2 linked regions of the Homo sapiens genome follow. The protein of the gene in region 2 purifies or fractionates together with the protein of the main gene of each other region. This does not show direct contact. Each region holds a gene or a part of one and is shown on either strand. Other genes may lie near its edges.

Region 1 (3,500 bases), on a different chromosome or scaffold from region 2:
ACCAGGAAAAATGTGTATTGTACCACTTAGCTAGTAAAAGAAAAGAATATGAGCAGGAACAATGAGTGTACTGATGGAGCTTACACTATATTTTGGTCAACATCATTTAAAAAGGTCAAAAAAGTAGCAGAACACTTATTTCAACAGACTACCTATTACTAGAAAAAGCTATAGAAACAGATACATCCCAAAAGTAATAGCGACGCTCTTGCTTAAAATAAGATAAAATGAAAATTACACAAATAATTCAATATTGTGTAATTCAAATATCTCAAACCAAATTATAAACGTTCTAAAAGAGCCCAGAGATCATGTGAATAAACTGCATAGGAGAGATGGTACATTATAGAGGTCACAGACATATACCTTGGGAATCAGTCAGACTGACCAAATCCTCCTTTCTCTACTTAATAGCCATATGCCCTTTGATAAAATTATTCAACCTCCACAACCTCCAATTCAACCTGTTTCATTATATATAAAATGGAGGTCCCACTAATGTATTTTCCAGATTCTAACAAGCCCTTGAAAAGATATATATAAACATTTCGAGAATCAGGATGAGTCTGACGATAGATTTTAAAGAAACTGGACAGCCAGAAATCAGAGAAATAATCTGTGGTAGATTTAGCTTTGCCTGAGTATGTGCAAATTGAGCTTTAAGTTGTTTACTCTGGTGGTAACATACTTAAACTTTAACTTAATTCTTTTTTTTTTTTTTTTTTTTTTTGAGACAGAGTCTCCCTGTGTTGCCCAGGCTGGAGCACAGTGGCACAATCTTGGCTCACTGCAACCTCCACCTCTGAGGTTCAAGCGATTCTCCTGTCTCAGCCTCCCGAGTAGCTGGGATTACAGGCATACGCCACCACATCCGGCTAATGTTTGTATTTTTAGTAGAGATGGAGTTTCACCATGTTGGCCAGGCTTGTCTTGAACTCCTGACCCCAAATGATCCACCCACCTCGGCCTCCCAAAGTGCTGGGATTACAGGTGTGAGCCACTGAGCCCACCCATTACTTCTTTTTTTTTTTTGAGATGGAGTCTTGCTCTGTCACCCAGGCTGGGGTGCAGTGGCACAATCTCGGCTCACTGCAACCTCTGCCTCCCAGGTTCAAGCCATTCTCCTGCCTCAGCCTCCCCAGTAGCTGGGATTACAGGGGCACACCACCACACCCAGCTAATTTTTGTGTTTTTAGTAGAGACAGGGTTTCAGAAACATGTTGGCCAAGCTGGTCTTGAACTCCTGACCTCGTAACCTGCCCACCTCAGCCTCCCAAAGTACTGGTATTACAGGAGTGAGCCTGCGCTCCCGGCACTTCTTTTTAAGTAAGCTTTTAAAATATCTTCAAAAAGATTCCACTATGGGCCGGGTGCAGTGGCTCACACCTGTAACCTCAGCACTCTGAGAGGCCGAGATGGACAGATCAGAAGTTCGAGGCCAGCCTGGCCAACATGGCGAAACCCCATCTCTACTAAAAATACAAAAATTGGCTGAGAGTGGTGGCGTGTGCCTGTAATCCCAGCTACTCAGGAGGCTGAGGCAGGAGAATCGCTTGAACCCAGGAGGCGGAGGCTTCAGTGAGCCAAGATCACGTCACTGCACTCCAGCCTGGGGTGACAGAGTGAGACCCTGTCTCCAAAAAAAGATTCCACTGTGATGTCATATTGAAATGAAAAATTATTGTGCTCATAGAAGATTTTAAGTCACATGCAATAAAAACTAACTGAAATTACTAATTCTCTCAGACTAGACCAAAACATTTTCAAAGGTTAAGAGAAGTTAGAGAAATTGGTGTGGCCATTTCATGGAGTCACACATTTAAATGTCAAAATTTCCAGCTGACTTAGAAGAAAAGCCGTTTTACTTTCAGATATATGTGTTTTTGTTTTCGTTTTTGTTTTTTTGTTTTTGAGACAAGGTCTTGGTCTGTCACCCACGCTGGAGTATAGTGGCGCGATCACAGCTCACTGCTACCTCTGCTTCCAAGGCTCAAGTGATCCTCCCACCTCAGCCTCCCAAGTAGCTGTGAACACAGGCACCTGCCACCATGCCCAGCTAATTTTTTCTGTAGAGACAGGATTTTGCCACGTTGTCCAGGCTGGTTTTGAACTTCTGAACTCAAGTGATCTGCCACCCTTAGCCTCCCAAAGTACTAGAATTATAGGCATGAGCCACCACACCCGGCCAGAGGTAAGTTATTTAATTAAAGAAAAGAAATTTACAAGTTTAACCAAATAGAAACCACCAATGAAATCAGTTTTCTTTGCTATGCTTCTGCAATTACATAAGTATTAAATAGATCCAGGCATAGGTTATAAAAGCAGCATGTTAGTATGATGATGCATATAACTGCTAATGGCCAAAAGTGATTCATACAAATCTTAAGACTCCCAAATATAAAGGCTTGGATTCAAACTTAGATTATAATGCTACAGAAGCTAAAGAATGGATAAATGTTATTTTCAAAAAGAGGCTGGGCACAGTGGCTCATGCCTGTAATCCTAGCACCTTGGGAGGCCGAGGAAGGCAGATCACTGAGGTGAGGAGTTCGAGACCAGCTTGGCCAACATGGTGAAACCCCGTCCCTACTAAAAATACAAAAAATAGCTGGGTGTGGTGGTGCATGCCTGTAATCCCAGCTACTGGGGAGGCTGAGGCAGGAGAACTGCTTGAACCTGGGAGATGGAGGCTGCAGTGAGCCAAAACTGTACCACTGTACTCCAGCCTGTGTGACAAAATGAGACTCCATGTCAAAAAAAAAAAAAAAGAAAGAGAAAAGAAAAGAAAAAGAGAAAAGAAAAAGGTAGCATTCCCCCAACTCCTCCAAGTCAAGAATATTACAGTAATATCCACCTTAAAGCTTTCTGGTGAGGAATAAATGAGATTATAAGTAAAATATTTATCACAGTGCCTAGCAGAGAGAGTAAGCATTTGATGAAATGTTGTTATTATTGATCAAATTTTGAAAAAACACTAATTTAAAAAATGAATGACAAATTATTCTTTGCTTTTATAAGCACTGAACCAAATATAATGGCTTAAGCTACAGAAAAATATTTTCTTGGAATTTAAAAAATTTCCTAATTAAATTTTACCGACATAATAATTACATCAAGAAGTATTTTGGTTAAGTATAAAGGTAAATCTTGTATAAACCAAATGTTCATGAATACTGTTTGTCATCATTTAACAACAGGTAACCCTTTCATTTCTTTTTGAGACAGAGTTTTGCTCTTGTTGCCCAGGCTGGAGTGCAATGGCGTGATCTCGGCTCACCGCAACCTCCACCTCCCGGGTTCAAGCCATTCTCCTGCCTCAGCCTCCCGAGTAGCTGGGATTACAGGCATGGGCCACTACGCCTGGCTAATTTTGTATTTTTAGCAGAGACGGGATTTCTCCATATTGGTCAGGCTGGTCTCGAACTCCTGACCTCAGGTGATCCACCCGCCTCAGCCTCCCAAAGTGCTGGGCTTACAGGAGCAAGCCACCGCACCCAGCC
Region 2 (4,242 bases):
CTGAAAAAGAAATAATTTGACTTCTTATTTTCCTATTTGAATGACAGGGTATGTCTTGATGTGGGATCTGGCAACTAAGTGTCTGAAAAGCTCAGTTTTGCTATGAGAAAAAAAACCATTCTCTGTCAAAAGGAATCAAGGCTTAATAAAAGATTTCATAGTATACACTGAAGGATGAGGAAGCTTATAAAGAAAATAGGCATCAAGGTTGGTGGTTGAAATAATACAGAGAAGTAAAATCAAGTGCAAGTTCAGATTTGGTGATTTGGAGTCTCAACTTTGAAGAGACAATGTGTGTTCTATATTATGTAGCATAATTCAGGGATTTCTTTACCCTTTAGTCTCAGGTTTGAAAGAGGAGTTCTGATTCAGAGTCTGGGAGTGTTCCTGAAACCACTAGTGTTTCTACAGGCAATAGAGGAAAAGTCTACCCTCTGGAACAAATTGGTTTTTAGGGAGTCCTTGCTGCCCTTTTCAGGCCTTTAAACACATAGCCAAATCCTCCATCAGCCTTCATGTTTACAAGAACAATTCTCACTTTTTAACTTAGGGAAACACACCACTCAGGACAAGGCAATAATAAACACTACTAAATTATGTGAAAGGGTTATAGAACATAAACTCAAAGGAGGGCTGAAGTTGGTTTGAATGCACAGCTGGATGCTTCATTGTAGCCACATAGGCATGAGTAGGGCAAACTGCTGAAATTTGCTGAGGATCAAATTATGTTCCACAAGATCATGCTCGCAAGAATTACAAGAATATCCAACAAAATCACTAGAGTCTAAGACTTGCTCAAGAATATTCTCTGAGAATAGGCAGCCATAGAATGAGCTAAGTGAAGCTCGACCACAAGACCTCACTGGATTAACGTCCTGATTTTTCCATTGCATAAGTTTACTCTCGGCAGAATTACGGTTGGGGGGAGGTTGGGGTGGCAGGTTGGCAGGGGAGAGTGGATCCACACTCTGATAGATCCTATTTAACTAGTTTTACTTTACTGTGCAGACTACCTCCCACAACAGGTAACCTTGAATGTAGGCAGACATGCTTCCAGAAATGTGAGTGGAGGTAGGGCGGAATAAAGAAAATGCAACTGCAAAACTGAAAATTCATACTAGCACAATGATGTTTAAATGATTTTCAAGTGTTGGAGCTGGTGTGGTGGAAAACAGTTGCCTGACGCTTTGGTTTGAAGGCCAGGGCTTGTCATTTACCATGTCAGGAGAAATTCCTCTCTTTTCGACAATAATCTCTGCACTGCCTACCTCAGGAGGTCCTCGCAATGCCAAAATGCCGCCAGTGTGGGTTGCGCCTCAGCTGAGCACTGATTCTACAGCCTCGCGGTTTGGGCGGGAAGTCCCACCTCCGCAACCCTGACCAGCCCGGCTCCCCACCCCCACCACCCGGAAGTGAACACCACGAGCTAGCGTGTCTACTTCACAGGCCAGGTCGTCAACTCAACTGTCAAGGTGTCCATTGTACCAGCTGGGCCATGGATCCCTCCCGCCTGAAATCTGACTCCACCTGCCAAGAGTCTGAGCCTGCAGGCCTAGATTTCGACTCTGCTGGCCAAGATTATTTCTCTGCAGCCCAATAATTCGACTCTTTCTACCAAGAATTGGACCTGGACTCTCTTAACGAAGATCTTCTTTCCCAGTCCATGCCACATGCCAGGACAGAGACCTCTGTGGGCACATATGAATCCCACTCGACTTCTGAACTGGAGGATCTGACAGAGCCCGAGCAAAGAGAGCTCAAAACCAAACTCACTAAATTGGAGGCTGAAATTGTAACCCTACGCCACGTACTAGCAGCCAAAGAGAGACGCTGTGGGGAACTCAAGAGGAAGTTAGGCCTCACCGCCTTGGTAGGGCTGAGACAGAATCTGTCCAAGAGCTGGCTTGATGTTCAGGTCTCCAACACCTATGTGAAACAGAAGACATCAGCTGCTCTGTCCACCATGGGCACTCTCATCTGCAGGAAGCTTGGAGGCGTGAAGAAGTCGGCCACATTCAGATCTTTTGAAGGTCTGATGGGGACAATCAAGTCCAAAGTCTCAGGGGGCAAAAGAGCTTGGCCCTGACTGTCTTTCTTCTGCGGAGGGTGGGGTTGATCTGCTCTCAGTTTTGGGGTGTGGGGAAGACCCACTCCAGATTCCGGGGAGTGGGAATGAGCCACTCCCAGTTCTGGAGAGTGAGGATGACCATCTCCACTTTCTGGAACCAGAATGAGCCCCCTTGGTAACCTTGCCTGGTACTAAACCAGTGCAAGGACCCCCTTCCCTTATTACATTTGCAACTCTGCCCAACAAAAACAAGCAAGCAAACCACAATGGTAAAGTGGTTAATTCAGGAAATTGACAGAATCCAGTTTTGAGAAAAGAACACAGATATTTGCTGCTTTTAAGATAGAGAACCCAAAGTTTTGTACCTGGTTATTTTTCACTTAAGTTTGTAGACGAAATGTGCCATTATATTAGCTTTCCTGAGACTGTATCTAATGGGCAAGTCAGTGGCTCCAGAGGGGTCTTAGGCCAAAGCCCAAACTCTCTTTTGGAAAACTAGCTTATTAGAAAGCCAAAGTAGAGTTCTGTTTAAGCTTGAAAGAGGTATGAAGTAATCTGTAGTGTTTTTTTGGTTTGTTTGTTTGTTTTCCCTTCCCCATTTCCTTCCTTCCCTCAGTCTCAAAGTCACCTTGAAAGCTTCACCTGGCCTACAACTTTTATTTTAAAAAGATGATCAAGAAAACTTCATCTTCTCTGAGACTCAGAAAAAGAGGGGAAAATAGTGGTAGTGCACTAATTGTTACATTACTAATATAGCTTTTGTAAAACTCGTTTGTTTTCAAAGGTCTGGACTAAGCAAAACAACAGTGTCAGTTTAGGAAATTATTACTACTTTGAACACAAACTGAAATTGCAACTTTGCCTTGTGCTTTGTTTATAATTTCTTTATATATCAAAATGAGTGTTTTAAAGTTTAACCCTTGAAGCAGCATGTCTTTGCCATAGCAGCACTTCACTTAAAAGGAAGAAATTGCCTCTCTGGCAGCAATTCCTAGTTAGTTACCACCTCCAGCTGAGGGGCTGGAGGAAAACAGGTATAGCCAAATTCAAGAAAGATAAACCCCTGTCTCAAGGAACATTTTAAAAAGAACGTCTGTCCCCTGTGATGCTGGCTGTTATGCCTTTGAATGGACCTAACTATACATCTTTGCTCTTAACTCCAAGTCTGCCCTTCTTTTTAGGAAACCCTAAAGGAGAAGGAAGCAGAATATAACCCTCTGGAGAGCTCAAGACAGTAGGAACCTGGACGGTGCTTGTTTGAATTTTCTGATATCTGATTTTCACACGAATATACTTTTTGTTTGTTTTCCTTTTCCATTTTCAAAATGCCAAGATCTGGGAGCCTCTTTCACTCCTCTAGACACACTGCCTGAGATAGAAGTTTGCATCTTATTGGCTGTGGGCAGAGACTAGGACCCTTATGGGTACATTTCAGTAATCTCTCACTGCCTAAAATGGTAATCCCTCCAGCCTAAGAGGATGATTCTGTTTTGTTGACTCTTGAATGCTCCCCCAACATTCCTTTGGTTTTCCTATAAGCAAAACCAAATACCACTATAAATACAAAAGCATCTGGTAAACTGTAAAGTTACTCATGTATCCCAACCCTCCACAGATTTCTGAAGACAAAGTTTTGCTTGGATTAAAACAAGATGTTTTACTATTTTGCATGTTCGATTTTTAATTTGTTGTGTTTATCAACCAAAATGGCTTTGTATGCTGGAGAACAAGAGGTGAGCCTGCAGCATACAAGAAATGAAAGTAGTCCAACAGGCAAAGGCTTTGACATATTTCAGGAAGGCTTGTGTTAGGGACAATCTCAGACTATTATCATGGGCCAAACCTGAGAGATGTTATATTTTATTTAATAATTTCTACAACAGTAGTAAGTTTCCCCAATAAATTCTCAACTCCGTAAAAGTAGTAAAGTACATATTTATTTTTGCTGATCATTGTTTTCCCATTTCTGGCTTAGGATTGATCTTCAATAAATACACGTTAAATCAAGGAAGGAATTAACATCATATACTTCAGACATCAAATATGGAATCCAAGAGACTATCAACAACATGAACTTGTTCACAAGTTCCTTCTGCTTTTAAACAAAAATATCGTGTTTATTCAAAGCCAATCTGAGACCCTACTCTGTATCAAGAACTGTCCCAGGTTCTGAA

What was found.
Region 1: the proteins of TPD52L3 (region 2) and GABPB1 purify together in Homo sapiens (co-immunoprecipitation; 2 studies listed by BioGRID and IntAct, with this or other methods). This does not show direct contact.

Annotation. Positions count from the first base shown.
Region 1 is NC_000015.10:50,296,199-50,299,698, forward strand, and holds part of GABPB1 (GA-binding protein subunit beta-1 isoform beta 2), read right to left. Parts: intron 1-3,500.
Region 2 is NC_000009.12:6,326,933-6,331,174, forward strand, and holds the start of TPD52L3 (tumor protein D55), read left to right. Parts: upstream 1-1,442; 5' UTR 1,443-1,663; coding exon 1,664-2,030; coding exon of another isoform or gene 2,031-2,086; exon of another isoform or gene 2,087-3,249; coding exon of another isoform or gene 3,250-3,281; exon of another isoform or gene 3,282-3,988; intron 3,989-4,043; coding exon 4,044-4,087; 3' UTR 4,088-4,242.